Regions from separate parts of the Homo sapiens genome. Here region 2 is linked to region 1. The links come from fine-mapping of genetic effects on gene expression. A gene starts in region 1. The other region holds a variant in brackets. All regions are shown on one strand. Distances are from middle to middle.

Region 1 (12,920 bases):
CTGCTGACCCCTTGAAGGGGTTGTTGGCACTGAACTCTCTCCATTTGGCCCCAAGGATGGTCATCATCTTAGACATTGGGATCTTAGGATTCTTCTTAGCAATTAGGGGCCTGTAAATATAGAAGCAGAAAACTCGGACCCTTCACAGATGGTCTGGGAACACTGCCATCTCCCCTCATCAATTAAATCTATGTACATGCTAGGATTCCTGGGTGGTGAGAATATGTCCTATTAGGAAAAACAGCCATTTAAAAAAATAAATAAAAAGAAGTTTAAAAAAAGCGGGGAAAGAACAGGTTTAAAAAAGCATTAAAAAAGAAATACAGGCCAGGCACGGTGGCTCATGCCTGTAATTCCAGGCTGAAGCAGGAGGATTGCTTGAGCCCAGGGCTATGAGATAAGCCTGGGCAACAAAGTGAGATCCTGTCTCTACAAAAAATTAAAATAAAAAAAAATAATTAGCTGGGTGTGGCAGCACCTGAGGCTGAGGCAGGAGGGTGGCTTGAGCCCAGGAGTTGGAGGATATAGTGAGCTATGATCACACCACTGCAGTGCAGCCTGGGTGACAGAATGAGACCCTGTCTTTAAAAAAAGGGAAATAGGCTGGGCGCAGTGGCTCACGCCTGTAATCCCAGTACTTTGGGAGGCCAAGGTGGGAGGATCACGAGGTCAAGAGATGGAGACCATCCTGGCCAACATGGCGAAACCCCGTCTCTACTAAAAATACAAAAATTAGCTGGGTGTAGTGGTGCGCACCTGTAGTCTCAGCTACTCGGGAGGCTGAGGCAGAAAAATTGCTTGAACCTGGGAGGCAGAGGTTGCAGTGAGCCAAGATTGCGCCACTACACTCCAGCCTGGCGACAGAGTGAGATTCCATCTCAAAAAAAAAAAAAAAAAAAGGGGAAATAAAAAACAGCGAAATAAAACTTAAAAGCATAAAAGGTTAAAATAAAATCAACAAAAATGCTTTACTTTTGTATACTACTTTACAGTTCATAAAACCCTTTCACATACATTCCACCTTATCTTGTCCTCACAATAATACTCTTGAGTTGCTATGATTCTCTGCATTTTACTAGTAAGTTCCATGGGCCCTGAAGATGGGCTTCCGTAGGACGGAGTGTGAAAGAGTCAGACCATGCTGGTTCTGCTCTGGGGTGGGGTGCTCAACTCTTGTGCGGACACGGGTGATCCATGGTGCTGAGAAAAGCCCCAAGTTCAGCAGTAAGGTAGGTGAGACAACGTTACTAATGACAGTCACCAGTTACTGAATGCTCCCTAGGAGCCAGGCACTGACGGTACTGTGCTTTCCATTCATTATCCCACCAAACCCACACAGATTCCTATGAGGTATATATTATTATTCCCCGTTTATAGAAGAGGAAATTGAGGATTGAAGAAGTTCAGTCACTTGCCCAAAATGTAACCAGATGTGAACCTCAGCAGCTGCCTCCAGAGCACTGAACTGATATGTTAAAGTGCCTTCTCCCCAAAACAAAATACATCGGCACTATTTTTTCTTTTTTTTTTTTTGAGACGGAGTTTCGCTTGTTGCCCAGGCTAGAGCATAGCAGTGGTGTGATCTCGGCTCACTACAACCTTTGCCTCCCGGGTTCAAGCGATTCTCCTGCCTTAGCCTCCCGAGTAGCTGGGATTACAGGCATGTGCCACCACGCCCAGCTAATTTTTTTGTATTTAGTAGAGACGGGGTTTCACCATGTTGGATGGGCTGGTCCTGAACTCCTGACCTCAGGCGATCCACCTGCCTTGGCCTCCCAAAGTGCTTGGATTACAGGCATGAGCCACTGCACCTGGCCCATCTCTGCTATTTTCTACTCTACTATTCTCTACTTTTCTTCAGGAGCCACTGAAGCTCAGGTCCCACTGCCAGCAGTGGACCCTCCATTATTACCAGGGCCTAAGGAAGGGGCACAGGACCTGCTAAGTGAGCTAAGGAAGTTCAGGAACACTGATGGTATCTCTCAGGTCCAGTCTAGAGAGAAGTCACAGAGCAGAAGATGGAGCTGTTGGGGCAGGGGAGGGCTCACTATATTCTGTCCTCACTTTATTCTGTTGCTAAAGAGTTCTCTAACCCAGCACTGGAATCATGATGGCCCCTCCACCCCTCGCCCCTCAGTGAAGAGTTCTCAACTGGGGTTCTTGGATCCTTATGAGTCTAGGAGTTCCCTGAAATGACGTGTAGAATTTGGTGTGTATACACCGTGAATTCTCTGGAGAGCAGTTTCATAGCTTTCATCAGATTCCAAGGGGTCCAGGACCTCCCTCAAATTAAAAGTGTCAATTAGCGAGGATTCCCCAGTCTTACCGCACCTCATGAACTGGCTGAAGGCTTTGTAGTTGGTGAGCGTGTGGTAATCCTCCTCAGAGAACACATGCTCCACATCCTCCAGGCCCCAGGTCAGAAGCAGAGTTGCTGATGACTTCTGTTCCACTTGCTGCGGGAGAGGGGCTTTGGTGAAGTAGGTGCTCCTCCAGCCCCTATTCCAGGCCGCACACAGGCCTGTCTACCTACCCACTAGCTTCCCTGGGCTTTCTTGCTTCTTGCCCCATTCTCCAGTCCAGTCTCCATTCCTCCCCTCCTCATGCCCGTCTTTAATGCAGATTTCTCACTCTCATTCCCTAATTCTACTCACCTTTTGCCCCCCATCTCCCTCCCCCTTTTTCCGCCGCTTTGTCTTCTTCTCCTTTTTTTCTCGGTGCTTCCTTCTTCGTTTCCGACCCGGTCCGGTTCCATATTCACTGCCCCCACTCTCTGACTTCTCCCGGTACTCATCTCGCTCAGAACCAAATTCCTCCTCACTGTCCTAAGAGAAAGAAATAAAAATAACATTTATTCATCCCTACCATTGCCAGAAACTGTTCTCAGCACATACCATATCTTACCTCTTTTAATCTTCACAACAATCCTGTGATAGTAACTAATTTTTTATCTCCTTTTTTTTTTTGGAGATGGAGTCTTGCTCTGTCACCCATGCTGGAGTGCACTGACGTGATCTCGGCTCACTGCAACCTCCACCTCCCGGGTTCAAGCGATTCTCCTGCCTCAGCCTCCTGTGTAGCTGGGATTACAGACGTACCACCGCGCCCGGCTGATTTTTGTATTTTTAGTAGAGACGGAGTTTCACCACATTGGCCAGGCTTGTCGCGAACTCCTGACCTCAAATGATCTACCCGGCTCAGCCTCCCAAAGTGCTGGGATTACAGGCGTGAGCCACTGCAACCGGCCTTTATCTACTTTTTACAGATGAGGAAACTAAGGCACAGAGAGCCAAATAAACGGCCTGGTATCCTAGACAGAGGAATGCTGGACTCTTGAATTCATACAGTCTTCCAGAGCTTGTGCTTTCAACTGCTTCTCTTTGCTGCTGAGGACACACTGACAACGAGGCTCTTCACTAGGTTGCAGTGAATGAAGTTAGGGTCCCAGATCCCTGAGATACAGGCCAACAGTGGCAGGGAAGTGGGGGGCCCGGGGGATCAAGCCTCCCTGGCTTCAGAACCCCACCCCCACACCAGTAATCAGGACCAGAGAAAATGTAGGTCTCTGAGAATGGGTCTCTTGAGCCTTGCCACAGAGTTAGGAATTCTTGACACTTACACGCTTCTTGCGTTTTCGGGGTTTTCCTGGCTTGTTCTCCTTCTGCTTCTTGGGTCCTCGTTTTCTCTTCTTCACACCCAATGCTGACGGCAGCAGCCGAATGTCATCCTTATCTTTGAAGCAAAAAGCATCAGAAAACCTAAGCCTCTAGGTTTCCAGCCTCTGAGGCCCCTCAACTTGCCCCTTCCCCACCTCGGCAGTTCCCACTCTCTAGGAAGCATTAACTCCTCCAAGCCCTGCCTCCCTTCACTGGATGCAAACAGAAAGTGTTTCGAGTACTCTGGGATGCTCTGGTTCTGAATGGGAGGTCAGGGGTCAGAAGAGAAGAGCAGCCAAACCACTCCCCTCCCTCCCCTCCTACTAACAAGAGACCAGGCTCCAGGCCATGGGCTCTGACTGTGGCAGGTCCTTTCAGTCACCGCCAGGGCTCCTCCTGCCTTCCCCCTCACTTCGCCAGCTGGCATCCTGCCCAGGAACTGGGGAAGCCATGCCCAGCTGCTGGCCTGGCCTGACCCCAGCACTTGGAGTGGGGAGACACAAGCTGGCAGCTCCCTAAGCCAGATGCTGGGGAGGGAGAGCCAAAGGTGGACACCTGGGTTCTCACACTAACACCCTGGGGCCCTGACATCCTTTTGCCAAGAGGGAGGCCTCTATTTACATTTCCTCGGATAATTACCAGGCATCCTGTCACCCCAACACAGTCCTGGAGGAAAAGAAATCCTCAGCTGGTCATTTTTACTTCTTGCCCACAGGATCACAGTGTCTGCCGCCTTCATCACACAGGAGAAAGTCTCCACAATTACCTAAATATTCCTCCTCCCAAGTAGCCTAAAACCTACCTTCAATTCTATTCCCATCTCCCTGCTCCCTTTGGGAACTAGGGGGCCATACCCTTTGTTTCCCGATCTCACCCTTCACCTCCATATTTTGTTCCAGATATCCTGACCCATTCATCTATACGCAGTATGGGAGACCCAAACAAAGATATAGGCACAGACAGACACACCCAGCATATGCCTTCTCAAAAGCACGCGCGCGCACGCGCGCACCCACACCCACACACACTCTCAGGCCCACAAATCCAGAGGATGGCCTGTACCTGCTTCAGCAGGGATAGGTCCCTGGCTTTCTCCCCAGATGTCTCTGCCAGAGGACCCCAGGCCCCCCACCCCATTATCTGTGAAGGTGTCACTCTGTGAAGGCTTGGGGAACGGAACGGAGAGTTACCCCACATAAAGGAAGACAGGATGCCCCACAGACCTGGGGCCCTGGGGCTCTGGTTCACGTCCCTCCCCTACCAAGCACTAGACTAACCAGCCAGACCTGTCTAGTACAGAGAGAGGCAGCCGATGCAAGATGGGAAAGCCTGGGCTTGGCCCAGCCCCTAGCTCTAGGACACACAATCCTTTCTCCTTCCCTCAACAGCCAACGGAAAATTAGCCACAATTAACACCAGAGGCCTCCGTTTCCACTGCCTCAGAGTCGCTGCCTCGCCTTCCTTCAGTGCCACCTTTCCTGCTAACTCCAGCATCCTGTGTCCCCTTGTGCAGGAAGACACTCTAGGACTGTGTGCGTGTGTGCAGGGGGGTGGCTGCCAGAGCCCGGGTGTGAAACGGAATGGGGACTGTAATAGGAAGTCAGCAAGGAAGGCGCCATGCCCCAGCAGCCGGCTCCCCCTGGCCCCAGGGACTTCGGTTGACTTGAACATGGAAACGCAGGCTGCCGAGGCAGTGGCAAGGGCAGGCCAACTGGCTAAGGTTCAGGGACACGGCCTCGGCCACCACCAGCCAGGGGTGGTGCACAAGCCGGTTCACTCTACTCCCCACCCCAGCGGGAGGTTCCCGAACTTGGGCAGGCGTCGGTGGCGGGAGAGGCAAAGCGAGAACGGCAAGGAAAAGCAAGGAAGGGTAATAAAGCAAATCTAAGTCCCAACCTCGGTCTCAGCAGCCACTCAATGCTGGCCTGGAGCCCAGACTCTCCCACATCCCCGGCTCGGATCTCAGGGAGGCAGGGAGGAGAGAGGCGGGGGCCGGAGGGCGCAGGGCGGAGCCTGGCCGCCCGAGCAAGCGGGAGGAGTCTCGGCCGAAGCCTCGCCTCCCGCCCGCCCCTCTCTTCTTCTAATCTCACCATCAATCTCTCACACATATATTTATTTTTTCTCAAATTCCCCTCCCTCCCCCACAACGCACCACCATAATAGGTCTGCTGCACATGCGTACTGCAGGCAGGGGGTGGGTTTGTATTTTCAGACCTTTTGCAAAGAAACTACCAGAATTTTCCGCACCACCCACAATCATTCCCCACCCCCACCCCCAAGGAATCACATCTATATATTATGTTATATTATTTCTCTCGACTTGCCAGAAGGGGGAGGGAGAAGAAATGAGTTTTTGGCTTCCTGCTCCCTTCCCCCACCAACACGACTGCTATTATTTTAAACGTTTAACAATGTAAGGAGACTGGAGAGAGGGGGAAGGGATAAAATTGGTCTTGAGTAAGAATGTAAAACAAAATGGTGAGAATCAAAGCAGTCGGAATGGAAAACAATGGAAATCTCTCCTGTGCACAAATGCATACTCTAGACAAGGAAGAGCGAGGGCAGCCTGAACAAATTTCCTTAGAGGAGGGTTCTTTTCCCCACACTTAGGTAGACAGAAATAATGAGTGTGCTAAAAATAATTTCCCGAAGTTTTACCTCCGAAAGTCATCTGAGGGGGTGTATCTGGGTCACTCATTCGACTTGGAGGGCTGAAAGGGAGATAAAAATTGCCCAGGGGGAGAGGGGAGGTGGGTTTTCATTTCAGTTGTAAAATGTAAGCAGCCTCTGACGTCTCTTCTGGTCTATTCAGAAAGCCAAGAGGGAAAGGGGAGGCCGGGTTGACACAAAGACCCATCTCAACCTCGGATCCTTTCACGCTTCTCTCCCCAACGTACCCAGATCCGGGACCCACACCACCCCACCCCAGACTCCAAGTCCCAATACAAATAGGTGAGCGCTGCCAAGCCCCTGGCAGGACCTGACGGCCTTTCTTTCCCTCTTTTCAGCGCCTCTGCCGGAGGCAACCCCAAAGGCACCCTCTCCCCACAACTCCTCATTCCTCCTCCTCCTGCCAAGGCAGGGGGCTCTCTGGGAGAACTTTTTCAAAACTTTACCCTTTTTCAGACAAGCTTGGGGGGCGGGGAGACTTTATCCAGTTTCCAGGAGACACACATCCCTCCCCGACCCACAAGAAAGCACCCCCCGCTCCCCCAAAGGTCGTCTCGGCTAGACAGGAACGTTTGCCACAGAAGCCACACGGATCAATATGACAGTTTTACAAAGAGCCCGGAGTTGGCCGTTTTGAAGTTTGGTGCATTTGTGCCGCATGGCAGCCAGAGGCCCGGGGGTGCGGAGGTCCCCCTGCTGTTCCCCAAGCAGGGGGTGTGGACACCCAGATGCTCACCTATCCCAAAGAAGACTAGAAATCACTCCACTAGGAGGGTGGTCTGAGGGGGACACCGCTGGGCGCCTGACGCGGCGCAGCGGTCTGGAGAGCGCCGCCCAGAGAGTGCCGCCGGGTGACTTGTCACCTCGGGGGACGGGTGCTGAGTGATGGTCAAGCTGCAGAACAGCTGGGTGGGCAGTTCACGCCCCCCAACGTGCTCAGGGAGTGGGTGGTTTCAGCGAGAGAGTGAGTGACAGTGAATGGCAGCCACGTGAGAGTCACAGCTGGGCAGCTTGGCCACCCCAGACTGACGGGGTCAAGAGGGGGACCCCCCCCACCGCACTTGACACAAAAGAGCCCAGAGCCCCGGCGAGATGAAGGGGGTGGAGCCGGGGGTATCTGGTTCCCCAGACACTCTTCTCTCCGCTCCCCAATCCGAATGGACTGCTGTCCCTGCACAGGCTGGGGGAGCGAGGGGACGAGCTCCTGCCTTATTCCAGGAAGTGGTCTGCGTGGACTGTGGCCACCACCTGCCCCTACTCATCAGCAGCCCACAAACATTCACAAGACCCCTCCCTCGCGTGCCACCGCATGCCCCTCAGTTGGCGGGCACCTAAGTCTCCGCGGGTGGAGGGGGGTCCGATGGACACCGTCCCCACTCTGCCTGTCCAAGTCCTGAGCGGAGGGGGCAGGCCCGTCGGCTGCTCCGTGCGGGGAAACCCCACTCTCCCTCGGTCCAACCCCACCGGGGCCAGAGCCCGAGGGGCGCTCGCGCGGCCGCCCCTCCCCCACGTGCCCCTCCCCCACGCCGCCGTCCGGCCGCCAGGGTCTCGGCGGTCCCTCGCTCGGCCAGGGAGGGGGCCCTGGCTTCGCCTTGGCCGTTTCCTGCCTACCCCCTCCCCGCCGAGGGTAAAAAAAAAACCTCCTCCTCCTCCTCCCCCGAAAGCCGCGACCGAGTGGCCCGGTCCGCGCGCGCAGCTCGCGCCCAGCGCTCTCCAGCCGGGGTGGCGGCGGCGGCGGCGGCGGCGGCGGCGGCGGCGGCGGGGGAGGGGTGCGGCGGGGGAGGGGAGGAGGCCTGGCCCCGCGGTCGCAGCCGCCACCGCCCGCCCCGACCTCCCGGACCGCCGCGGGGCCACGGGCCCGAGCCCCGGATTCGCGCTCCGGATTCGCCTCGGCTCGGCCGCGCGGTGGGTGCCTCGCCCCCGCCCGGCTTCGCGCGCCCGCGGCTCCCACTCGGGCTTGGGGGGGGAGTCGGGGCGGGCGCTTACCTGGCGGCGGGGGCGGCGGCGGCGGGGGCAGCGGTGGCGGCGGCGGCGGCGGCGGCGGGAAGAGGTGGCAGCCGGGGGGGCTGTGGCGGTCGCGGCCCCGGTCGTGGCCCGGCCCGCGCCCGAGTACTCCCTCGTCGTCGTCCTCCTCATCGTCCTCGTCGGCCGCCTCCACCTCCTCCTCCTCCTCCTCGTCGCCCTCTTCTTCCTCCTCTTCTTCCTCCTCCGACACCACCATCTCCTCCTCCTCCTCCTCCTCGTCCCTCAGAGGGGAAGCCATCCTGTGGCTCTGGCCCCCCCACCACCCCCCCACCCACCGCCCGCCCGCCTCCCCCACCGCTACCACCACCACCTCCTCCTCCTCCTCCTCCTCCTCCTCCTCCTCCTCCTCGGCGGCGGCGTCCTCCTCCTCCTCACCGCCTCCCCCAGCCCCCCAAACCCCCGGGCCACCCCCCTCCGAAACCCCCACCCTCGGGGCCGCCGTCTGAGGAGGGGGGCCAAACCACCCCCAAAAATTGTCTTGGAAAAAATTGAGGAAAGACTTTTTTTCCTTCTCTCTTTCCTCCCAAGAGAACAAGAAAGGGGGATTTAAAATATATATATATATACATATATATATATATATATATGTATATATATAAAAGTTTTCGACTTCTCTCTGCCCCCCTCTCCGTTGCTTTAAATATATTTAAATTCTGAGGGGGGCGCTCAGAAATATTTCTCAGAGCTGAGGCACTAAGATGGCCGCCTTGAAATTATTTTTAAAACAACCCCCCCTCCAGCACCGCCACCCCCTCCATAAAGAAAGGGAGAGGGGGGAAAATCCCCTTTTCAAACAAAATGGCTGGCTTAATATTTCATTTTTCACCCCCCCATTCTCCTCCCTGTTACACCCCCATCTCCAAGCCTTTACCCAGAAACCCACAAATTTCTCCTTTTTCATAACTGATTAGTGCACAGATTAATAGAGATATTTTCCTTGTGTACTGAAGTGTGTGTGTGTGTGTGTGTGTGTTGGGGGGGCATGAAGGATTTCTGCATAAAACAAAAATGGCTGCTGTGACTAACTCCCCCCTTATAAAAAATATTTGAGGGGGGGCATTAATCAGTACTCATGCTCAGTCTGACATCAGCATAAATTGTTAAAGGTTAACTAGTTAGATACTAGTCCAACTAGATTTAATTTTTTTTATTTTCTTTACTAGTCTCTTCCTCCCCACCTCCCTTCTCTAAAGAAAAGCTTTTTTTTTTTTGAATACTTCAGAAGGGAGTGGTTTGATGTGAAGGTTTTTTTCCCCTTCAGGCATTGAAAAGGAAAAAGATGAAATATATGTTTATATATAACTCTGTTTCTACATACCTCATTGAAGTCACAACGCATTTAATTGTGTACATATCTTTTAAATGAGAAGCGGGACTGGATTTTTTTCTGCTTTCTTTAAAAAAAGTGATAGAAATCCTAGTGACTTTTGGGGGAGAGATATGAATAGATACGATGATTGAGTTTTTTTCAAAGGAGTCCATGTTTGATTCTCCCCTTTACCCAGCCTTTTCAGTGATTTATAATTGTTATAAATTTTATCTTTACTCTTTTCCCCTTTCCCTCGCTTTCCCCTCCTCCAATTGTTAGAATGTAAAATTCAACTGACTTGAGAAATTAATTTGGGGGGTAAACAACAAATTTTTAGGATAAAGAGGAAAGAGTCAAATCTGAAGATCGTGAAATTATGTTCTCTTTTCTTCCGTTTCAGTATATTTGCCTTCCCTCCATGATCTCCAACACTATCCGATAAAGTAGAAGCAACTGAGGTACCGTGAAAGAGAAAGGAGCTGGAACTGAGAAAAAGCAGAGGTAGGGGTTATACCCAGGCGTTTTCATCTAACTTTCTGACCTGTGATTTCCAACTGTACCCCAGTGTTTATGGTAAAGTGGTACCAGGAATTGGACAGTTGGAAAGGAGTCCCAAAGTAGCTTTCTCATACAGAGATTTGCCCAGAGAGGTCTAGACAGAAAATGATCCTTGCCAAATGGAGCAAAGGAAGGAGGGCAAATAGCTCAGTTCTACCCTCTTTCATTCTTGTTGACCCTTTCTTACTCTAGCTTCCTCCCATTCCTTTGATCTCCCTTTGCCCCTTCCCTTGCTTCCCATTCCATGCCTGTGGAATCATTTCTCTCTGGGTTATTCCTCTACCTCTCCAGTGTAACTGCTGGCCACCCATCTTCGGCGGTGCTCAGGAGCACCCTGAGAGGGAGGGGTAGGTGGGCAGCAACCAGAAAGTATTAGTGACTGGGAAGATGACGCACATTTTTGTTTATGAAGCTAAAATGTTCTTTATTAATGTTCCACTCCCCACACTAATGCACTTTATTGGGTGTTGGTTTCCATCTCTTTTTTTTTTAACCTGGCCTTTGGAATTCTCTTGCTTTGGTTCCCACATCATTTCTGTACTAAGTCTAACTCCTCCTCCTTTTCCAGTTTTCCTGTCGATTTTGCTCTCTTGTCTTCTTTCTCTGTCCCTCTTTACTAGTTCATCTGGTTATCCCCCCCTTTCTATATTGTGGGCTTCTCTCTATTTATGTCTTTGTTTTTAACTGAGACTATCCTTCTCATCCCTTGGACCCTCAGGCTCTGTCACCTCTACGTGACTTTCCATCTCTGTCTTCTTTCTGCTTACTTCTGTCTTCCAGTCTCTGACTGTGTGTGGCTCTTCCTCATGTGTGCCTGACTCCCCCTCTTTCTGGCCCCTTCTGTGTGTGTCTGTGGATCATACTGTGTATGGGAAGTGTCTCCACGTGTATGTGGGCCACACTGCGCATCATGTGCGCCGCAGCCTCTCTGCCTCTGTGCCCTCTCCCTATACTGAGAGCCTCTGCTTGCCACATGTGCCATGATCTGCAGGTGCGGGTGGCTAAAGGTGGCCGTGTGCATCCCTATACAAACACTCATCATTCTCTCTCTTGAGTGTGCTTTGCATGTGGATTTGCTAATTTGCCTTATTCTCCCTCTCATCCATCCTCCCTTTTGCCTGTCTGCATCTCTTTCTGTTCTCTCTCTCTCTCTCCTGACCTCTTGATTTTTCTTCTTCTCTCCTTATTTCTGCCTCTTTACCTGCTTGCTCCTGTTATGGTGTCTGCCTGCCTGCCTGTCTGCTCCTCCCTGACTGGCTGGCAGCCTCTTTTTCCTCTCTGGTTGTCTGTCTGCTTCTCTGGCTGTTTGCCCACCACTCTCTCTCTAGCCATCTGTCTCCCCGCCTGCCTGTCTCTATCACTTTTTTAGCCTGCATCTCTCGGTTTGTCTACCTTCCAGGCCCTGCCACGGCTCCCCATCTTGGTTTGCCTCTTCTCTTGCCCTTCTGCTTGTTCCTTCTCTTATTTGTGCCTGTTAAGTTCCTCCTTTTCCCTTGCCTCCCTTTAGATCTCTCTTGCCTGTCTACCCTGTTTGCTGCTATCCCACCGTTTCAGGCTTTTCTCTCTTTAGTCTTCATACTTACCAGCTTTTTCTTCCTTTGCTTCTTCTCTGCCAACTTCCATCAATGAGGATAGTCTCTCTCCCCTAAACCTCTCAGTAACCCCTTTGCCTCAAAGTCTTATCTAACTTCTTGCCACATCCCCTACCCTGCCTTCTCTCACGTTTGCCTTTATTTCAGTTATCTCTTTTTCTGTCTTTCTGGTTCCTCAGACAGTCTGCCTGTCTCAGTCTTTTTGCCATTTTCCCAGTCTCTCGCTGCCTTCCTGCCTTTTTGCTGTCTGCTTGGCAGGCTCTTGCTGTCCACGTCTCTTCTTGCTTTTCTCTCTTCTTTTGTTTCTTTTTCCAGTTAACTTCTAAATAGGTAGTACATACTTATGGTACAACATTTTAAAAGTACAGAAAGTGTACTGTGAAAAGTAAACCTGTCTCCCATCCTTCTCCCCTAGTCCCGGAGTTCCTCTCCTCAGAAGCAGCCACTGTTTCACATTTCCTGGATACTGCTCCAGAGAAAAGTCTACACATATACAAGTCTTTTTGCTTGCTTGCTTTTGCTTGTGTTTTGCTGTACTCCTCCCTACTTTTCTTCCAGTTTTTCTGGATGCTCCTTCCTCTGTCAGTCTGTCAGTACTCCTAACTAACTTGGCTGGGCTTGCCATCTCTGGTCTTTTTGATTCTACCAAGTGTTACCCAAAGCACGTGTCTTTTGGATTGACTAGTTACTGGTTGCATGCGTTCACTACCAGTACTTGAGGAGTGCTCAGGAAGGCTTTACTCTCTCCAAATGTAGTCTACTCTGCATGGTAAGTGGTCTGATGCCAGCAAGACATCTTTGTTGGTCGCTTCATCACTGAAATGTGTATTGGAGAAGGCATGAAAGCACCGGTAGTACTAAAAAGTACCCTATAAATATAGGCACTGTTAATAAGTAACAGTAAGCTGAGCTTACATGCACACAGAGTAGGTAGAGGACTGCCCTGCTTTCTCACTTAGTCTATATGAATTCTGTAAGGTCATGTGAATCCAGATCCTTTAGGTTGTCGACCTAGGCCTAAGAAGTTTGTCTTCCTCCTAGTCTAAAAAGCTTTCTCCTGATTAAAGCCTTCTGGCTCCACTCACATGCCACCTTAGAGACATTTTATAA
Region 2 (8,000 bases), 85 kb after region 1:
CCTGGGCTCAAGTGATCTGCCCACCTTGCCCTCCCAAAGCTTGGGTTTACAGGCATGAACCACCACACTCGACCCACAACCAAAGAACCTTAACTGATATTCATGCGGTCTCCTTTCTACTAGGCCCTGTGCTCTTGAGGGTAAGAACAATGCCTCATCCATCCCTATCTTTCTGAGTGTCTGCTGCACAGCCGACGATCAATAAACACTGGGTGAGTGGAAGTCATTGATTTCATTGTCTCTAGCTTACCTAGCTGCCTCTTGGCCTCTGCCCATGTGGGCTCGTTGCCTCGAAGAATCATAACTGCCTGCATCACTATCTCCACTTGGGCTGGGGGCCGTCCATAAGACTTGATCTCTCCTATATCCTTCTTGTTCAGAGACTCCAGGGCCTGGGGGAAAAGGGGATAAAGTGAGGGTAAGACAGGACCTTCTGGAGACAGAACCTAGCTGAGGTGCCACCTCTTCTTCCCACTTCCCCAGAGTCTTTGAGGACAAAGAAGACTGGCCCATTCCCTTCCCCGGGGCCTCGCGTTCCTGGCTCCCATCCTTGCACCCGCCCCTGGTACCCGCATGGCCTCTTCCAGGGCGGGCAGTGCCTCTTCTAGATCTTTCTGGGCATTGTCAGCCAGTGCCTGACACTTGATTTCCTCAACTGCAATCTTTTCACTGTTGGCTGTTACGGCCTAGGGATGAAAAAAGGACAAGGGTTTTTTGTCTTTGCCTTGGGCAAAGGTGGGAGTGACGGTGTTGGTGGAAAAGATGAAAGAGAAAGCTAAAGAATTTTTTTTTTTTTTTGAGATGGAGTCTAGCTCTTTCGCCCAGGCTGGAGTGCAGTGGTGCAATCTCAGTTCACTGCAACCTCCGCCCCCAGGGTTTAAGCGATTCTCCTGCCTCAGCCTCCCGAGTAGCTGGGATTACAGGCACCCGCCACCACGCCCAGCTAATCTTTGTATTTTTAGTAGAGACAGGGTTTCACCATGTTGGCCAAGTTGGTCTCGAACTCCTGACCTCAGGTGATCCTCCTGCCTCAGCCTCCCAAAGTGCTGGGATTACAGGCGTGAGCCACTGCACCCAGTCACTAAAGAAAATTTAAGAAGGGGGGAACATGGGTTCCCTGACGCAGTAGCCGGCACTGGTGGGAGTGGGGCACGGGGGGTGGGCGTGGGCCCTGGACCTTCTGCTGCTCATCTGCCTCCCGCTTCTGCTGCACAATGATGACCAGGTACTCCTCACACTGCTTCTGGAACTCAGCCACCTTCTTCTTGGCATCCTCCAGCTCCAACGACATCACTTGCACCTTTTCCCTAGTTTCGTCGATCTTGAACAAGCCTGTCCGCAGTTTATTGGCTTGGGCCAGCAGCTCCTGCCGTTTTTCTCCCAGCAACCTGGGGGAAAGAATAGGACAGGGTGTGGAGAGGCGGGGCTTCCGGAAAGCGCGGTGTCCTGTAAGGTCCACCTTCCCCGTGTGTCTCGAGTCCGCCTTCCTTTCTGTTGCCACCAACACTACCCCCACCATCCTGGTCGGGATTCTATCACTTCCTGCCTGGGTCATTGCCAACAGCTTCCCAAGGGCTCTTCTTGATTTCAGGCTCTCATTCCTCTGGTTTGTTCTACACACCACTACCAGAATCAGCTTGTTAAACAGTCTCCATCACACCACCTCCCCTACATGAGAATCTTCCTCTGTTTCCCACTGTGGAACAGGCAGGTGGGCTGGCCCAGGGCAGGCAGCCGTCCCTCAGCTCCAGCCTGGTTTTTTTTCCCTATGGGAATGAATGTGGGCCCAGTATTGCAACAATTTATTGCTCTCTCTCTCTCTTTCTTTTTTTGTAGAGATGGCGTCTTGTTATTTTGCCCAGGCTGGTCTCAAACTCCTGACCTCAAGTGATCCTCCCACCTCAGCCTCCCAACGTGCTGGGATTACAGGCATGAGCCACTGCACCTGCCCCACAATTTCTGATTTTTTTTTTTGAGACGGAGTCTCGATCTGTCACCCAGGCTGGAGTGCAATGATGCAATCTCAGCTCACTGCAACCTCCACCTCCCGGGTTCAAATGATTCTCCCGCCTCAGCCTCCCCAGTAGCTGGCATTACAGGCACCCGCCATCATGCCTGGCTAATTTTTGTATTTTTGTAGAGACAGGGTTTCACCATGTTGGCCAGGCTGTTCTTGAACTCCTGACCTCAAGTGATCGGCCCACCTTGGCCTCCCAAAGTGCTGGGATTACAGGCGTGAGTCACCGTGCCCAGCCTTATTTGTATCTTTTAAAATATCCTTTGCAATAAATCAGCAATAGTAGGTGAAGTGTTTCCTGAGTTCTGTGAGCCACTCTAGCAAATTAACTGAACCTGACAAGGGGGTGGTGGGAACCCTTGATTTATAACCGGCCAGGCAGAAACACAGGTAAAACACTGGGCTTTCGGTTAGCATCAGAAGCGGCGGGTGTATTGTGGGACTGAGCCCTCCACCTGTGCGATCTGACTCTAACTCCAGGTAGACCATTTCAGACTTGAGTTATATCATAGGACACCCAGCCAGTGTCCCCTGGAGAACTGCTTGGGTGGGGAAAATCCCCACCACATCTGGTGTCAGAAGTGAAGTACAGCCAGCCTTCCGTATCCACATCCGTGGATTCAACCAACAGAGGATCAAAAATATTTGAAAAAAGTCTGGGCACGGTGGCTCATGCCTGTAATCCCAGCACTTTGGGAGGCCAAGGCCGGAGGATCACCTGAGGTCAGGAGTTCAAGAACAGCCTGGCCAACATGGTGAAACCCTGTCTCTACTAAAAATACAAAAAAAAAAAAAAATAGCTGGGCATGGTGGCGCGTGCCTGTAATCCCAGCTACTAGGTAGGCTGAGGCAGGAGAGTCACTTGAACCCGGGAGGCAGAGGTTGCAGTGAGCCAAGACTGCGCCACTGCACTCCAGCCTGGGCAACAGAGCGAGACTCCGTCTAAAAAAAAAAAAATTGCAAAAAAATTTGCATCTGCACTGAACATGTACAGACTTTTTCTTCTTGTCATTATTCCCTAAACAATACAGTATAACAACTATTTACATAGCATTTACATTGTATTAGGTATTATAACTCATCTAGAGAGGATTCAAAGTATATGGGAGGAACGTGCATAAGTTACATGCAGATACTCCATTCTATATCAGGGACTGGAGCATCTGTGGATTTTGGTATCCGTGGGAGGTCCTGGAACCAATCCCCCACGGATGCTGAGGGACTGTACTGTGTTGAGTGAGAGAGTAGGGAAAACACTTTGCTTTTTCTATCTCATACAGGTAGAAAGTCTAGAAGACATTAAAGGCAGACAGGAAAGGACTGGGTATATTATGGCAATGTTCCAGTTATATTATGGTCAGAAAAAGACAGAGAAACTTCATGCCAGAAAATAAGGGCCAAGAGGGTGTGGAGAGCGGCTGAGGGGGACATAGCCAGAAGGCTCTGGAGACAGCCCCTCCCACGGGAAGCCCCAACTCCCTCTTCCCAACTTCCTGGGCAGAACTGTGGCCTTTGTGTCTCTGCCCTTGCACATCAGCATCATTTCACCCATCGCCCTCAGAAGACACCAGCCTCCCTGGCCCTGCACATCCCCTGCCCCCCTTCATACTTCTTATATCCAGACAGGAGTTCCAGGTATTTGGTGGGTGTGACATAGTTGTGTCTCCGCAGTTCCAACAGCATCTTCTGGGAATACTGAGCTACTGACCAGTGCATAGTGACAAAGATCTGGGCCACCTTCCTGTGGATCTGAGGCCAGTGACACAGGATGAAAAGGCAGATGGAAACGGAAGTGGGAGAGAGGCTGGGAGTGCGATGAGAGGCGGGAAGGAGAGAGGCCGGGGGTGCGATGAGAGATGAGAGGCGGGGGAGAGGGAGGCCAGGGATGCAATGAGAGGTGGGGAGGAGGGGCTCACATTCTCCTGAGTTCCCAGGTCTACTCCTATGAGGCACTTCTCAGCCACCTCGAGCAGGGCCTCTTGGGGCCACTCTGAGAACCAGTTGATGGTTGTGCAGTTCACCAAGGCTGGGTACTGGCGGATCCAGTTCCTGGGAAGGGGTTTGGAGAGGCTGTAAATTCCGTGCACAGACACAGCCTCCAGGTACTGGCTTCCCAACACGCATCCACTCACTTTCTAAGAACCTAAAATGCCCCATCCCCTTGCTCCTGTATCTCCTTGTCCAAATTCTGTTCCTGCAGAGCTAGTTCAGCAGAGCATTTAGAAACAGCTTCTGGCATCAGAAAAACCTGGTTCTACACTTTCGAGGTGTGGATCTCCAGCAAGTATCTAAGCTCTTTGAATGCCAGTTTCCTC[G/A]TCTCTAAAATGGGAATAATAATACATGCTGACTAGGATGGTTGGGGGATTCAGTGAGGTGTCACACGTGAAAAGCTCAGCGTAGCGCCTGGCTATGGTAAGTACACCGTGTATCACAAACATTAAAAACAAAATGGTAGGCCGGGCACTGGAGTTTGTGCCTGTAATCCCAGCACTTTGGGAGGCCAAGGCAGGTGGCTTCCTTGAGCCCACGTGTTCGAAACCATCCTAGGCAACATGGCGAAACCCCATCTCTACAAAAAGTACGAAAATTAGCTGGCCGTGGTGGCATGCGCTTGTAGTCCCAGCTACCGGAGAGGCTGAGGCAGGAGGATCACTTGAGCCTGGGAGATGGAGGTTGCAGTGAGCCAACATGGCACCACTGCACTCCAGCCTGGGCAACAGAGCAAGACTCGGTCTCAAAAAAAAATTTTTTTTTTTTTTTGAGACGGAGTCTTTCACTCTCGCCCAGGCTGGAGTGCAGTAGCGCCATCTAGGCTCACTGCAAGCTCCACCTCCCAGGTTCACGCCATTCTCCTGCCTCAGCCTCCCGAGTAGCTGGGACTACAGGTGCCCGCCACCATGCCCATCTAATTTTTTTGTATTTTTAGTAGAGACGGGGTTTCACCGTGTTAGCCAGGATGGTCTCGATCTCCTGACCTTGTGATCCACCTGCCTCGGCCTCCCAAAGTGCTGGGATAACAGGCATGAGCCACCGCGCCCAGACAAAAAAAAATTTTTAAGGTAATCCAAATTGCTTCCCTGCACAAGTTCTCCGCCCTCTTCCTAGTTTCTAATTCCCTTAAAAATCTAGTCATATCAAGAAAATGTGGTATAGACATACAAGATAATATTATTCAGCCTTAAAAAAAGAAGGAAATCCTGACACATGCTACAACATGGATGAACCTTGAGGACAATACGCTAAGTGAAATAAGCAAGTCGCAGATAGACAAATGGTAGCTGGGCGCGGTGGCTCACGCCTGTAATCCCAGCACTTTGGGATGCCAAGGCGGGTGGATCACTTGAGGTCAGGAGTTTGAGATCAGCCAGACCAACATGGTGAAACCCTGTCTCTACTAAAAGTACAAAAATTAGCTGGACATGGTGGCGAGCACCTGTAATCCTAGCTACTGGGAGGCTAAGGCACGAAGATTACTTGAACCTGGGAGGTAGAGGCTGCAGTGAGTCGAGATCACAGCACTGCACTCCAGCCTGGGCAACACAGCGAGACTCCGTCTCAAACAAAAAAAGAAACAAAGACAAGTGCGGCATGGTTCCACCTATGTGAGGCATCTGATGTCAGACTCAAGAGACAGCAGCTGGGGAGGGAATGGGGAGCAATGGTTTCATGGGTATGGAGTACGGCCTCGGGAGCATGAGAAAGCTCTGGAGCTGTTACACAACAGTGTGAGTGTACTTCACACGACTGAGCACTGCACTCAGAAACGATTAAGATGATACATTTTGGGTGTGTGTGTGTGTGTGTATTTTGAGACAGAGTCTCGCTCTGTCACCCAAGCTGGAGTGTAGTGGTGTGATCTCGGCTCACTGCAACCTCTGCCTCCCGGGTTCAAGCGATTCTCCTGCTTCATCCTCCTGAGTAGCTGGGACTACAGGCGCCCCCGCCACCATGCCTGGCTAATTTTTTGTATTTTTAGTAGAGACGGGGTTTCACCATGTTAGCCGGCATGGTCTCGATCTCCTGATCTCGTGATCCACCCACCTAGGCCTCCCAAAGTGTTGGGATTACAGGTGTGAACCACTATGCCCGGCCTGTGTGTGTGTGTTTTTAACCACAATTAGATTTACAATGACAAAACAAAACCAAAAAGCCACCCACCAAAACAAACAAACAAAAATCTAGTTATGCCAAAAAAGGATGGACGACTCCCATGTCCACCAAAGGAACTTCCTGAAATCAGGCACAGCCTAAGGAAAGGAGATGGGTGAGGCGGGCAGAGGAGCCTGCTGTTATTCCTGACACTAATTTCCAGAAGGCACAGGAGGCCACAGCAGGGTGAGGGAGCACACAGAAGGGGCTGAGAGAAGGATGTCACAGAAGTCACCTGAAGGGATCCCCCATGGGGCTGAGGCAGAGCACGATGTGCAGGTTGTTCTGCACGCGTTCAATGAGGTAGGCGAAGAGGCTGTCCGATGACTCAGGCACCTGCTCCACCCGGGCCTGGTCTATGATATGCGACTGGATCTGGACAGAAGCCACCCAGGGTCAGAGGGCTGGCGTGTCCATAGCAGAATCAGCGGGGGCAGCGGGTCAGGTGGGGCTGACGAAGTGTTTCCCAGGCTGGACTTGAACTCCTGGCCTCAAACCATCCTCCCACTTCAGCACCCCCCACCCCCGAGTAGCTGGAACTACAAGCTCAAGCCACTGTGCCTGGCTCTGAAGCGTGGGTTTTAAAGCAGCTCTGCCCAGGGTCCCTGGAGGGGACCTTCCACCTTACAGGGCTGAGGTGGGCAGTGGGGGTGTGGCAGTGGGGGTGTGCCAGTGGCACATTCTGGGAGCTGTGGTCCTTCTGGGGTCAGCTAGGCAGGCCAAAGAACTGACTGGTCAAGGGTGTGGAAGGAATCCTACCTCTTCAAATTCATCAGGCTTGTAGAGATTGGGCACCTCGCCTGAGCTGAGGATGTTGTTGATGTCCTCTAGGAAGGACTCATCAGCTATTTGGGTGTCCACAAAAATGAAGGACGTGGTCTTGAGCTCCACCCCAGCCTGGCGATACAGACGCTTGATATCTGGCCGGGGGAGGGAAGGAGGACAAACTCACTGCAGATTCCCCATCCTGGGCTTGATTCCTTTTCTGAGATTTAGGAACCCTCCCCGCCCCGCAGCATACACGCGACACCATCCTACACCCAACACGGGCCAGACACGTCTGCCCATCTGGCTGCCATCTCTCCTCTCTTGTCACTGCAGGAATGTATGCATCTGATCTTTTATTCCTAGCATTTCAGAAACCCAGCCGTACCATCTCGGAACTCCTGCTTCCGATAATGTTTGGTGACCTCGATCTGGAAGGTGGTGTAGTCGCAGATGGATGAAGCCAGGCGGGCCAGACTCTGGCGTCCGCTGCCCCCGATACCCACCAGGAGCATGTTGCCCCGAGGCTGTCCAATGACCCGCACGATCCGTGTGACTGGGGGTGGGGTGGGTGTGAGGGTAATGAGTTGGCTGAGCAAACTCAGGGGACCTCCAGGCCCTAGGCTAGGGATTGGGGCCCCTGAAACTGAAGCAGAGGAACCAAGAGGTATGAGAAGAAGTTGGTGCCCAAGGCCCAGGAGGCAATTCAACTTTTAACCTCCACCTTCTCTGTTAAACACACACTGCCACAGGGCATCTGGGGCCAGGGAGAAAGGCAGCTTCTGGAACTTGATTTGGGAGACCTGGGAAGGGACCCCTATTTCCTTAGACATACCCCATCACTGAGATGATGGGGAAGGGGATAGGCGTGGCAGGTGCTCACTGTGTTCAATAGCCTCTCGGAAGAGCACTAGCTGCATGGGCACGACAGAGGGTGACAGGTTATACTCATTTAGAGCTGTCTCCATGACTGTCTTCAGCACTGTCAGATCCGTGAGGTCTTCATACACCTTGGGCTCCTTCAGGAAATCCCCTGAGCCATGGGAAGAGGGGATCAGAGTCACAAATG

Evidence for each region.
Region 2: its variant is fine-mapped to the expression of CHD3 in whole blood (INTERVAL, PIP above 0.99).

What each region holds. Positions count from the first base shown.
Region 1 is chr17:7,880,476-7,893,395 of GRCh38, reverse strand. CHD3 (chromodomain helicase DNA binding protein 3) reads right to left here and starts at 4,607. Exons shown (of 40, transcript NM_001005273.3): 1 at 4,296-4,607; 2 at 3,620-3,732; 3 at 2,655-2,825; 4 at 2,332-2,456; 5 at 1-110. The coding sequence starts at 4,395. It also overlaps a transcript of NAA38 not described here. RefSeq lists enhancers at 3,606-4,175, 7,495-7,544 and silencers at 5,585-5,744, 7,795-7,874.
Region 2 is chr17:7,797,644-7,805,643 of GRCh38, reverse strand. DNAH2 (dynein axonemal heavy chain 2) reads right to left here. Exons shown (of 86, transcript NM_020877.5): 53 at 7,815-7,964; 54 at 7,320-7,487; 55 at 6,926-7,086; 56 at 6,402-6,541; 57 at 3,934-4,066; 58 at 3,627-3,766; 59 at 1,178-1,388; 60 at 570-686; 61 at 251-392. Among named protein-coding and RNA genes, the nearest start is that of KDM6B, 33 kb to the left of the region's middle. The variant G/A (reference allele first, on the strand shown) is at 4,333.